Regions from separate parts of the Homo sapiens genome. Here region 1 is linked to region 2. The links come from fine-mapping of genetic effects on gene expression. A gene starts in region 2. The other region holds a variant in brackets. All regions are shown on one strand. Distances are from middle to middle.

Region 1 (5,387 bases), 26 kb before region 2:
TTCTAACTACTCTGGGCAACCTTGAACTTCTTGCCACTCAATATTTATCAAAGGCTTGATTAAAAGAAACAATATTTACAAAGGACGGTCTGAAAGTTATGCCATCCAGCCATTGCCTGAGTCCTGTAAAATGTCTCGCTGCATTAATCTCAGGTGGCAGAGAGCTGGTGTCCTAGGACTGAATTGTTTTTGCTCTCTCAGAACAGCTTCTACCAGGTTGTGTTTTGGCATGACCCTATCAATGTATCACAGAGGAAATTATAGGGGAAACCTTCATGATGCTTGTGTTTGTATCTGCTGTAAGGACATTGTTGGGCATGCTCTGTGAAAAGGCAGGGGAGGGGGAGTGAGTTTTATTATGATTGATATTGTTGTAGTGTTAATTATTGACTATTCAAACAACCTCTTATCCACTATTCCTGTCTGCAATTTCCCATCACACTAAACTGCGCTGAATGCTTTTGCTTGCGTAATCTTTAAAATATAACTTTACTTATTGTACAACTATTATTGTACATATACAGATGCATACATACATATATATAGGAAAATATATAATATACAGACAAACATAGAGAGGGAAATAAAATTTATTTCTAAGACTTTCAATCAAAGATAAAGAGTCTGGATTTTGAATCTTGACTGTCCAGACTGGAATTCCACTTGCAGCATTTACCTTTAGCTAACTATTTAATCCATCTCTGCTGCTCAAATGGAATCTAACAAGATGTTCAAGCGGGTCTCAGCCCAAGACAATTGATGCTCCTTCCAAATAAGTTGCAAGTCCATGATATAGGTTTTATGAAAGAAGTGACTCGTGCTTGCTTTGTGACTTAATTGTTCACCCACAGAAATGGAATAAAAGGACTGGAGGCTACCGGAGAAGAAAGAAGATAATTTTTGGAAGAATTGATTCTGCTCTGAGTCCTGTACTCTCACAGAATAGAAAGGTTTAGATGTTCTGTTCATCTCAAGTCAAAGGAATAGTGCCTATAGAGAAGTTGAGGGCATGATGAGGTCTCCTGCAGTCATGAAGACACAGTGGACTGGTCTGACCCAAGCCTGACACCTTAAATGGAAAGAAACAAGCTAACTGTTCTGATGGCAAAAGGCAAAATGAAGTGGCTGCCCTGAGCAAACTTCACTCCCAGAGTCTCTGAGGACAAAGGATAAACAAGTGTTTCCTGTGTGTTATGCATGAAGGAGCATCTTCCTGGAGTCATCCCAGAAGCTGCCTGGGAGTCATCTGAAGAAGCAAAAAGATCACCTTTGAAAGGAGATGGAGATACCACCAGATGCTTTTTGGCTGGAGAAGGAGTTCATAACCAACCATCCAAAGAGAGACGCTTTCATCAGCAATAAGGTAACTGAATATGGCAGATCCCTAGGGAAGTAAGAGAACCCATAAACATGGCCCTTGACAAAAATGATGAGCCTTAAACACCTGCAAATCCAGAGAGTGCCAACACCAGCTCTCTACGCTCTCCAGGAGCCAAGTAACAATGTTCCCACCCCTTTCCCGCCTTTCCTCCTCAGCCCAGCTCCTCCCACCTACTTCCAGGTAAGTCACTCTCCCAGGCTGGGAAAGGGGAATAATGGCAACCATGAATGATGCATAAAGTATTGATTACTACCCTGAACTAGGCATATTAGCTATTGACAGGAAAATGGGCAGAAAACACATGAGACATGCTAATTTTAATCTATGGGCAAGAGGAGAATGAGTCCAAAGGGATCATTTTAAAAGGCAGTGGCACAAAGGAAGCTACTTTGGGATTATATCCTACAAACCATGCTGTTTCACCGTACTGGCAATAGGCGGATAATAATGGCATCTAACTTCATAAGGGGAAGGAATAAATGACCTCATTATGAAGAAATGAGCTAATGTGTGCAGAGCACTTAGGACAGTTGCTGACAATATTATACTACCAGCAATTTATTGCCTCTCTGATTAGTGGCTTGTTTTTTTGTTTTTTTGTTTTTTTTTTTTTGAGATGGATTCTCACTCTGTCGCTCAGGCTGGAGTGCAGTGGCACAATCTTGGCTCGCTGCAACCTCTGCCTCCCAGGTTCAAGTGATTCTTCTGCCTCAGTCTCCCAAGTAGCTGGGACTACAGGCACGTGCCACCACGTCCGGCTAATTTTTTGTATTTTTAGTAGAGACGGAGTTTCACTGTGTTAGCCAGGATGGTCTCGATCTCCTGAC[A/C]TTGTGATCCACCCACCTCGGCCTCCCAAAATGCTGGGATTATAGGCGTGAGCCACTGTGCCCAGCCTAATGGCTTGATTTTAGTTACGAATGTTCTCAGTTTAGAGTTCAAAAATTATTAAATTTCTATATAAATATACATATATATAATAAATATTAAAATTAATATATAAATTTTAATAAAACTAGATTGGTACAATTTTTAGTCATTTAACTACAACTCATGTTATTAAACATTTTTCAAAAGCAAACTTTTTATGGTTACAAATATCCCATCCCACAATAGCGCAATAATATGCTGAATCATTTAGCTGCTCCTGGATTATTTGAGAGTCATTGTGTTAATACACAGCTCAGCCTGTCAGCACTCTTCCTTTCTAGCCTTAAGTGCCTGTACATCACAGCATGCCTCCATCAAGTCAGGATTTTTGCCTTATCCCAAACAGGAGAGTAGCTCTAGCATCTTCATTTGTTTTTCACGCAAAGAACAAAAACTGTCTTGTTCACCAGCTCCTTTTAAAATTCTGTCCATCCTTCAAGCCAAGTTTAAATGCTGTGACTTACAGGAAGCCTCCCCTGATTTTCTTCTATTCCTTCACCTGCCTCCAAGTGGAAATATTTGTCATCTGCCTTGGTAGAGCTTGACACTTTCCATGGCACTATTATTCTTGTTTTTCTGTGAGAGTTACTGAATTTGTGTCTTATCTCCATATCTAAACAATAAGCAGCTTGAGGGTAGAGAATGTTCCTTTTTCATTGTGACATTTATTCACCAACATCTGAAAGTATATGCTACAAGTCATCCATTGTGCGGAGTGATGAGGGGACTAAATAAACAAGACCCAAGATGAGCATCATCATATTTAGTATGAAAAACAGGTATTGTGATAGGTTATATTAGTTTTTCCAAATACACACTTCCTCACTCTGTGAAAACATCATATCCACTAACATGATCCATTGATCCAATAGACTTGGCCCATTGACTTGCTTGGTGTTGCAGTTAGCTTTTGCAGCATAACAAAAAGCTTCACATCTTTGTAGCTTAAAACAGCAATGATGTCGTAGCTCATGATTCTGTGAGTTGGTAACCTAACCTAGGCTCAACTGTATGGTTTTTCTGCTGATCCTGCCTGGACTAATATTGGGCTCACTCATGTGACTGAAGTCAGGCACATGGGGCTCTGCTGAGCTGGATGATCTTAAACTCCTCATTCGTATGACAGGAGGCCAATAGGCAAAGGTGTCTTTGGGTGGGCCTCTCCAGAAGGCTAACTTGGACTTATCTACAGGGTGCTCAAAGGGCTGTAAGAGCAACATAAGAAGACAAGCACTTTTCTTTTCTTTTTCTCTTTTTTTTGAGATGAAGTCTCACTTTGTTGCCCAGGATGGAGTGCAGTAGTGCTATCTCAACTCACTGCAACTTCTGCCTCCTGGGTTCAAGCGATTCTCCTGCCTCAGCCTCCCAAGTAGCTGGGATTACAGGCATGCACCATGACATCCAGCTATTTTTTGTATTTTTAATAGAGATGGGGTTTCACTACATTGGCCAGGCTGGTCTCGAACTCCTAACCTCAAGTGATCTGCCAGCCTCGGCCTCCCAAAGTGCTGAAATTACAGGCATGAGCCATGGTGCCCAGCCAGACAAGCACTTTTCAAACCTCTGCTTGTATCACTAAAATGATAGAGAAAATTTGCTAGTCACCAGTGGAAGCAGAACATTTATGGCATTAAAAGAGTTCAGGCCAGGCGCGGTGGCTCATGCCTGTAATCCCCACACTTTGGGAGTCTGAGGTGGGTGGATCATGAGGTCAGGAGATTGAGACCATCCTGTTTAACATGGTGAAACCCTGTCTCTACTTAAAATACAAAAAATTAGCCAGGCGTGGTGGCACACACTGTAGTCCCAGCTACTCGGGAGACTGAGGCAGGAGAATCACTTGAACCTGGGAGGTGGAGGTGGCAATGAGCCGAGATGGTGCCACTGCACTCCAGCCTGGGTGACAGAGAGAGACTCCATCCAAAAAAAAAAAAAAAAAAGAGGTCATCATGTGCCAATTCAAATTAAATTGAAATTATGAAGGAGCAGAATCCATGAACAGCAGAAACTATGAGATTGAGAAAAATATAGAGAGAATAAACAAATGGAATCAACTGATAAGAGGAAAAACGAGGACAGATAAAGAGAGGAGCAAGGATTCCAAGAGAGTTCAAAAATCCCTGTCGGCTTTCAATGTCATTCCAAGTTCAACTGCCTACTTGTAATAAATTACAATAAATTTCCTCATTCCTAATTCATTTGAATGAATCTCTGTTCCTTGGGACCAAAAAGACTTACTATAACAAAGTTAGTGCCAGGAGTGGGGTTTCATGGAACCAGACACTCAGAAGATGTGCAGGGTGTTTGGAATAGTAATCAGGGCAGCAAGACAGTCTTTATAACCTGGGATCAAAGGCAATCATTCCATTATAAAGAGCAATGTAATGGTACATTAAGCTGCTGCTTGTGGTTGCCTATGACTCAGACTACCTCCATGGGTGAGGCTTTGGAGGTTTGTGTAGCCACAGAGCTGTTTAAAGGAGATAAGGTGGGGGCTCAAAACAGCTGTGAACAATTTCCAGTGGCTGAAGAATAAGTTCTGTATCTGGGTTGTGCAGCTGAAAGCAGACCTTTGGGAACATGGTGTGACCCTACTAAGTAATGCCTTTTATGCTTAGAACTGACACAATGAGTCCATTGAAAAGCAAGTCTAAAAATGGCCGTATGCATTGCTGAATTGCAGCATGGGCGAAATTCCCAATATTAACATTTTCTATCACCCAGGTTAAGTATCTGATTGATAAAGACTAGACTTTGCTAATAAACATGGTATATCTGGAAGATATTCAAAGATTTGGAGATCCCCTACCCTCTAGACTCTGAACACTTCCCATTTTATCTCCCCCACTGCCATCCTCATCGACGCTACTCTCTCTTCATTAATAATGGGCTGGCTAGGCGTGGTGGCTCACGCTTATAAATCCCAGTACTTTGGGAGGCCAAGGCAGGCGGATCACTTGAGGTCAGGAATTCTAGACCAGCTTAGCCAACATGGTGAAACTCTGCCTCTACTAAAAATATAAAAAATTAGCCAGGTGTGTTGGTGGACACCTATAATCCCAGCTACTCAGGAGGCTGA
Region 2 (5,387 bases):
GCAGAAATTGTGAAAAACAGAGTAAGATCTCTTTTTGCTTTTAATAATAATAATAATAAGCCCCAAGGACCATACTAACAAAGTAGATTGATCCGTTTAGGAATAAAATTCTCAAACAACCCTGTGAAAGATAAGTATTCCCTATTGTAGCAAAAACAATGAGTATGATCTTTTTTTCCCGATGAAGATCCTGTTTAATGTCTTAAAAATATTTTGTAGTGATTTTTATTTTCATTCCTTCTTCCTCCAGCTCCTTTCCTGAATATGGAACCAGAGTGTCCCTTGTTGTGAAGCATTCCTGGGAAAGAGGCGCTAACCTTGTATCGCTTTTGAGTGTAATATACATTTTTCATTTTAAATGGGAGCTCATAATGACATTGTGTGGAAGGGATTCCAGGCCTCTGTGATTATCACCATGTCTCCTTGAGCTGCGCCTCTGGAAAAAAATGTGAAGGAGGTAGCCCTCTGGAATGAATAAATCCTGCCGCCTGCCTGTAATTATTTATTAAAATAGATTAAAGAAATAGGCTAAAAAGGAACCCGCCACCCATGTTAGAGATAGCATAATAAGAGTACATAGAAAGGGAAAATTAACACCAGGGAGGAAGGAATGTTAGATATGTGCTTTCAAGAATACGGCCATGTCTGCATTGTTGGCTTACACGCAGACACACGCTCGGGTTTTTCATTTGGCAGGGTGGGCTGTGCTGATGAAAACGTGGGTTACTAATACTGATGTGTATGTCTCTAATTAACATTAGAATTGAGTGGTAAACATAACTAGGAGAGCATTCAAGAGAGAAATGGGCTAAAAGAGAAGCCAATGTGTAGAGAGGAGGGGGAAGAGACGGGTTGGAGAGAAGAAATCGGTCAGCCCTTGTTCAGATGGGTTTAATTTAGTCACTTGAGTCAAAACTGGAAACCTGTTTTCTAGTACAATTGCTTCTGTGTTTAGTGGGTGCTGTCCTTGCAGGCGCCTTTCATTGCAGGTGAATTTTATAAACAGCACACCATCATCAAACCATCTTGGGGGTCAACTTTTTCCACTTGTGCCTTTAGCTCTTACGCAAGTACTTTTATAGTGTCTTCTAATATACAGGATTTATCTTCGGTTCTGAGAAGAGCTTTTAAACTTAATCCCTCACTGGAGTACTAATTTGTTTCTTCATCCTTAAACCAGTACTTTCGGTTAACTTTCATCAGAAACGGTAGATTTCTTTAGTATGGCCACTCGAGAAACATAGGTTTGTGTTAATTTTTTGTTTTGTTTTGTGGCTGTTTTTGTTTGTGACTGCTGGGAGAACAACAGGGTGGGGGAGATTTTGATGATGGTCGCTGATATTATTCTTGTATTTCTGTTTCTTAAAGTTCAAAGTACATAACTGGAAATACCTGTGGACGGTTGCCTTAAAAATATTTCTAATCATATTCGCCTAAAGAAAATAAAAACTACTACCTATTTTTAAAAAAAGGAATGCCAGAACTTATTTTTGCTTTTTTATTCTGGCTTTTCCCATGATATTTGAGTGGAATAATATGCTATGATGTTTATGTATGAAAAACAGAATACACTTGCATATGTTATGAGGAAGAAAGCTGCTTCTAGGAAAACGAACTTTTTTTTTCTTTTTTTATGTTTTAGGAAATGATTTATCAAAGTAACAAAATAACTCATTGGGAAAGCAGTGTTATTTATAAAAACAATCAGCCTTTGACTTCCTTTCATTTTTATAAGGCTAATGTAACAAGGATGTTGCAGAGGCAAAAATGAACTCGAATCCTTTTAACCATATGAACACTTATGAATTTTATTGCAGCTCCTATGTAACCACTTTATTTAACCAACTAAATAAAGCATGTACTTTTTAAAAATATTTAATGTTCAGCACCAAAAACTGTATCCAAAGAAAATGTACATTTCCTGTGTAATATCTGCCTTGCCTCGTTAATTCGTTAGAAAAAAATATATACAAACATATCCAGGGAAATGCTTTGGGTTTTTTCTAAAGTCATAGATGTTTGTGTAGAAAGGAATGGAACCATCTTCACACGTGAATTGAAAGCGGAGATCTTCAGTGCTGGAGTTCAGAAAATGAAGAGAACTTACAAAAATGTACAGCTGGGAATGCCATTCCAGTGGATCTTCCCCACCACGAAGTTATTACTGTGTGAACAATGTTCATTAGCTTTACCAATATTGTACTTCTGTTTATCTGCCATTACCATCTTCACAAAGTAAATCACTCCTGTTCTTCCCAGATCGCATCTCTTCCCCCACCCTCTGAAAACCAACATTTGTTACCCATAAGCAGGGGGGGACGCTTAGTGATAAGTATAATAGCTTAAATTGAATTTTCCTTCGAATGATTTAGTGAATACTAGAACACATTTTTACTTTGTTGTTTAGACTCAAGAAGGCATAAAATCTCCGCCATCTATTTATCATGTAGTTATTTTAATGTAAACATGTGTCCGTTTAGATGAAGTGTTTTCATTATTAAGCTAATTCCAACGTGTCTCAGATAGACCATGAGAAGGGAGCCGAGCTCTGGCTGATGGGGAACCGAAACCTGCCTCCGCTCAGCCTGCTGTCAGATATGTCTTCATTAGTTTTTTGTCATTCACCGGTGGCAAATGCTGTATAAATGGAATGATGATCAGGCCCGCCTTGATAACTTGTCTTATCTCATTAGTTTTCACATCAAAGTTAATCAGCAATGTGAATTGTAATTGCTAGAGGAGACAATGCGTAGATCGCTGGTTGCTTTTTTCCCCCTCCCCTGTATGGCATCTTGAAACATCAGCAGGCTGGCTGGAGCAGATAGGCTCGGAAGGAAAATGATGTGGAAGGCATAATAAGCGAGCTGCTCAGAATTAATGAGCTAACCCAGTAAGAAAAGAATGGCCAATCAATGTGAGTTGGGCAAATATAATTTAGAAATAATTGCTTGATTGGTTGCCTATAGTAGACTGATTTGACCACATACAAGGATTAAGAATTAAGATGTCAAGGCAAAAAATAATTTGGCAACTGAGGGCATGTAATTTTTTGTGTCCTTCCCTTTATGATTGAAAGAGATGGGTGTTTGAGATGCTATTCGCCAGAATGAAAACATTAGACACCCTCTCGTTCTCTTTCTGCTCCTCTCACAATGCAGGCCCATTCAGAACACAATTGTGATACTCCTGGACAGGACGTGAAAAAGGTATGGATTGAGAGAGAGAGAGAGAGAGAGAGCGTGTGTGTGTATGTGTGTGTGTTCCCATTTATTGCAGTTATGCCCAAAGGATGAATGGGTTGGTACATAAGGTGTTTGCATCTGCGCTGAGCTGCAACATCATTGGGAGGCATGGCAAAGTGAGAGATGTGGATATTTGCAAAATACGTCAATTGTCTGTCCTCGGCCGAAGAGTTCTGCTCACATCCTACATGTTCCTAATGCAATTTTCCCCACAGCTATTCACCAATTAGTAGAGGGCCCTTGCTATATTCTTCTGTCTAAACTATTGGGAAGGTTCAGCCAGAAGGTAAATTTGCTTTGATCTACATTACACCTAATTGAGTCACCAGCAATGTCTCTATCCCAACATCAAGAAATGTGAAAATGTTAGATTATTTCACTGGGGATTAAACCTAATTTTCGTGTGTTCTGCATTAACCTATTAGGCTGGCTAATCTGCATTGCTAATGTGACTGAGGCAGCTGTCACAGCTAAAGAAAAACATGATCATGCAATCCTTGAATGAATGATTCCCAGCCTGATTAGTCTTAGTGAAGTTAGCTGAGCCCTGGTGATAAGGAAGGAAAATTCCCAGGTTGCCAATAGCTTTGAAAATTATCAGACTGTAGGCAAAAATATACCTCATGATTCACAGGCTTCGGTCCAAATACCGAGTTGAGTGACATTATTTAAGACTGACTAAGGCTAACTCGAATTGTCGCTCGCATAAATGTTTGTGTTTATTTTAAGGGACTAACGTAATGGATGCAGATTTAAATGCTAATAGACGCCAGCCAGACACATAAAACCCCAGGCATTGTTACCCTGTTGGTCTTTTATTAACATAGATTAAATTGTAATATTTTCTAGATAAATTGGCAAAATCAGAAAGATGCATTGCCCCCCAGAATGCTCGATGAGGACGACTTTTGCAGGACTTCTGGTTTTTCGGGAGATGAGGATCACAGTAGTGGAAGTTTACACGTTCACTACTCTCATTATCAGTTTAAAAAAAAAGAAGAAGAAGAAAAATAGGGGAAAAATGTGTTTATAAGGAGGAAAATAGATTTCTGCAGCTCGCTGGCCAGAACCACTTTCTCTGTCTGTCCACTTAATTGGGAGGACTCGGCACGCATTTCTCCTCATCCCTGTATTTTGTTCGCTTGGAGAAGGCTTCGCTGCAGTTTCAAGACTTTGCGTGCTCCTCTCCATTTGATTTCAACAGCAAGAGAGCCACCATGATGGGTACCCTTCAGATGTGGAAAGTGTTCAAGGGAGTTTGGTGGCTGCAAATAGAGCTGGGAGTCCATTTAATCCGATTAGCAGTTCCGCAAAATGGGCCTCGACCCATTGTGGACAGAAGCCTTTACTTTATTTGTTTCCATTAGCCAAGAATCAGTTATCAGAAAAGTGGAATTTTGCCCCATCAGATTGCCCAGACAATCAACAGAAAATAAATGAGGAAATAGTCTAATGTGTCAATATTTGTCTTTTGGCCCTAATTGTCCACAGAGGGGACTTGCTGAGTGTGTGAAGTTGGCAGCCTGGGTTTATCTGTGTACTCTTGATGGTTTTTCCCACTGTGTAGGCACCGGAGCCGCTACGTGCACAGTAATGACATCTCAAAGGCCAACAGCACTGGCTGGAGAATAAAGGCGTTTTAAAGGTCTAAGAACACTGGATTGAAGAGCCAAGGAGAACCCTTGATGGATGAGGAGGAAGGCAGAGCCCAGCAAATGACAAGGCATTTGTGACCAGGTTTCCAATGCCGGAGTGAGGTAGAACAAAAGTACTGAAGAGACAGGAGCTTCCGTTCCTGCCCCGGTGCCAGCTTGTCTTTCCCGTTTCCCAGGAAGCTCAGCTGACTACAAGCCTACGGGGGTACGGCCCTCCTCTTATTTCTGTTGCCTCTTGTTAGTTGAGAAATGTTAGTGTCTCAAATTGTTTTAGTCCCTCAAATTGCCTTTAAGGATAATGGTAATAAAATGATTTAAGCTACAATATTTGAGTATTCACTATTTACCAGATACTATTCTAGGCACCGAATATTTGATTTCCCCCCAAGCCCCATGAGATGCTGCTATCATTAGGCCCATTTTACAGATGAGTCACTGAGGCCCTGAAAATAATTTGCCCATATTCACTCCACCAGTGGCCATAGAGCCA

Which allele goes with the higher level. Positions count from the first base shown, and alleles are read on the strand shown. Sizes are in standard deviations (SD) of each study's normalised expression.
For the expression in caudate of the gene that starts at base 3,106 in region 2, C is the low allele of the variant in region 1 and A is the other (moderate effect, 0.47 SD a copy in GTEx).

The links. PIP is the estimated chance that this variant, and not a neighbour inherited with it, causes the effect. A credible set is the group of variants that fine-mapping cannot tell apart.
Region 1: its variant is the best candidate, but not a certain one, in a credible set for the expression of LINC03083 in caudate (GTEx, PIP 0.51).

The regions. Positions count from the first base shown.
Region 1 is chr20:20,941,736-20,947,122 of GRCh38, forward strand. No RefSeq gene overlaps it. Among named protein-coding and RNA genes, the nearest start is that of LINC03083, 26 kb to the right of the region's middle. The variant A/C (reference allele first, on the strand shown) is at 2,209.
Region 2 is chr20:20,967,343-20,972,729 of GRCh38, forward strand. It overlaps LINC03083 (long intergenic non-protein coding RNA 3083), which reads left to right and starts at 3,106. Exons shown (of 2, transcript NR_186504.1): 1 at 3,106-3,206; 2 at 4,810-5,220.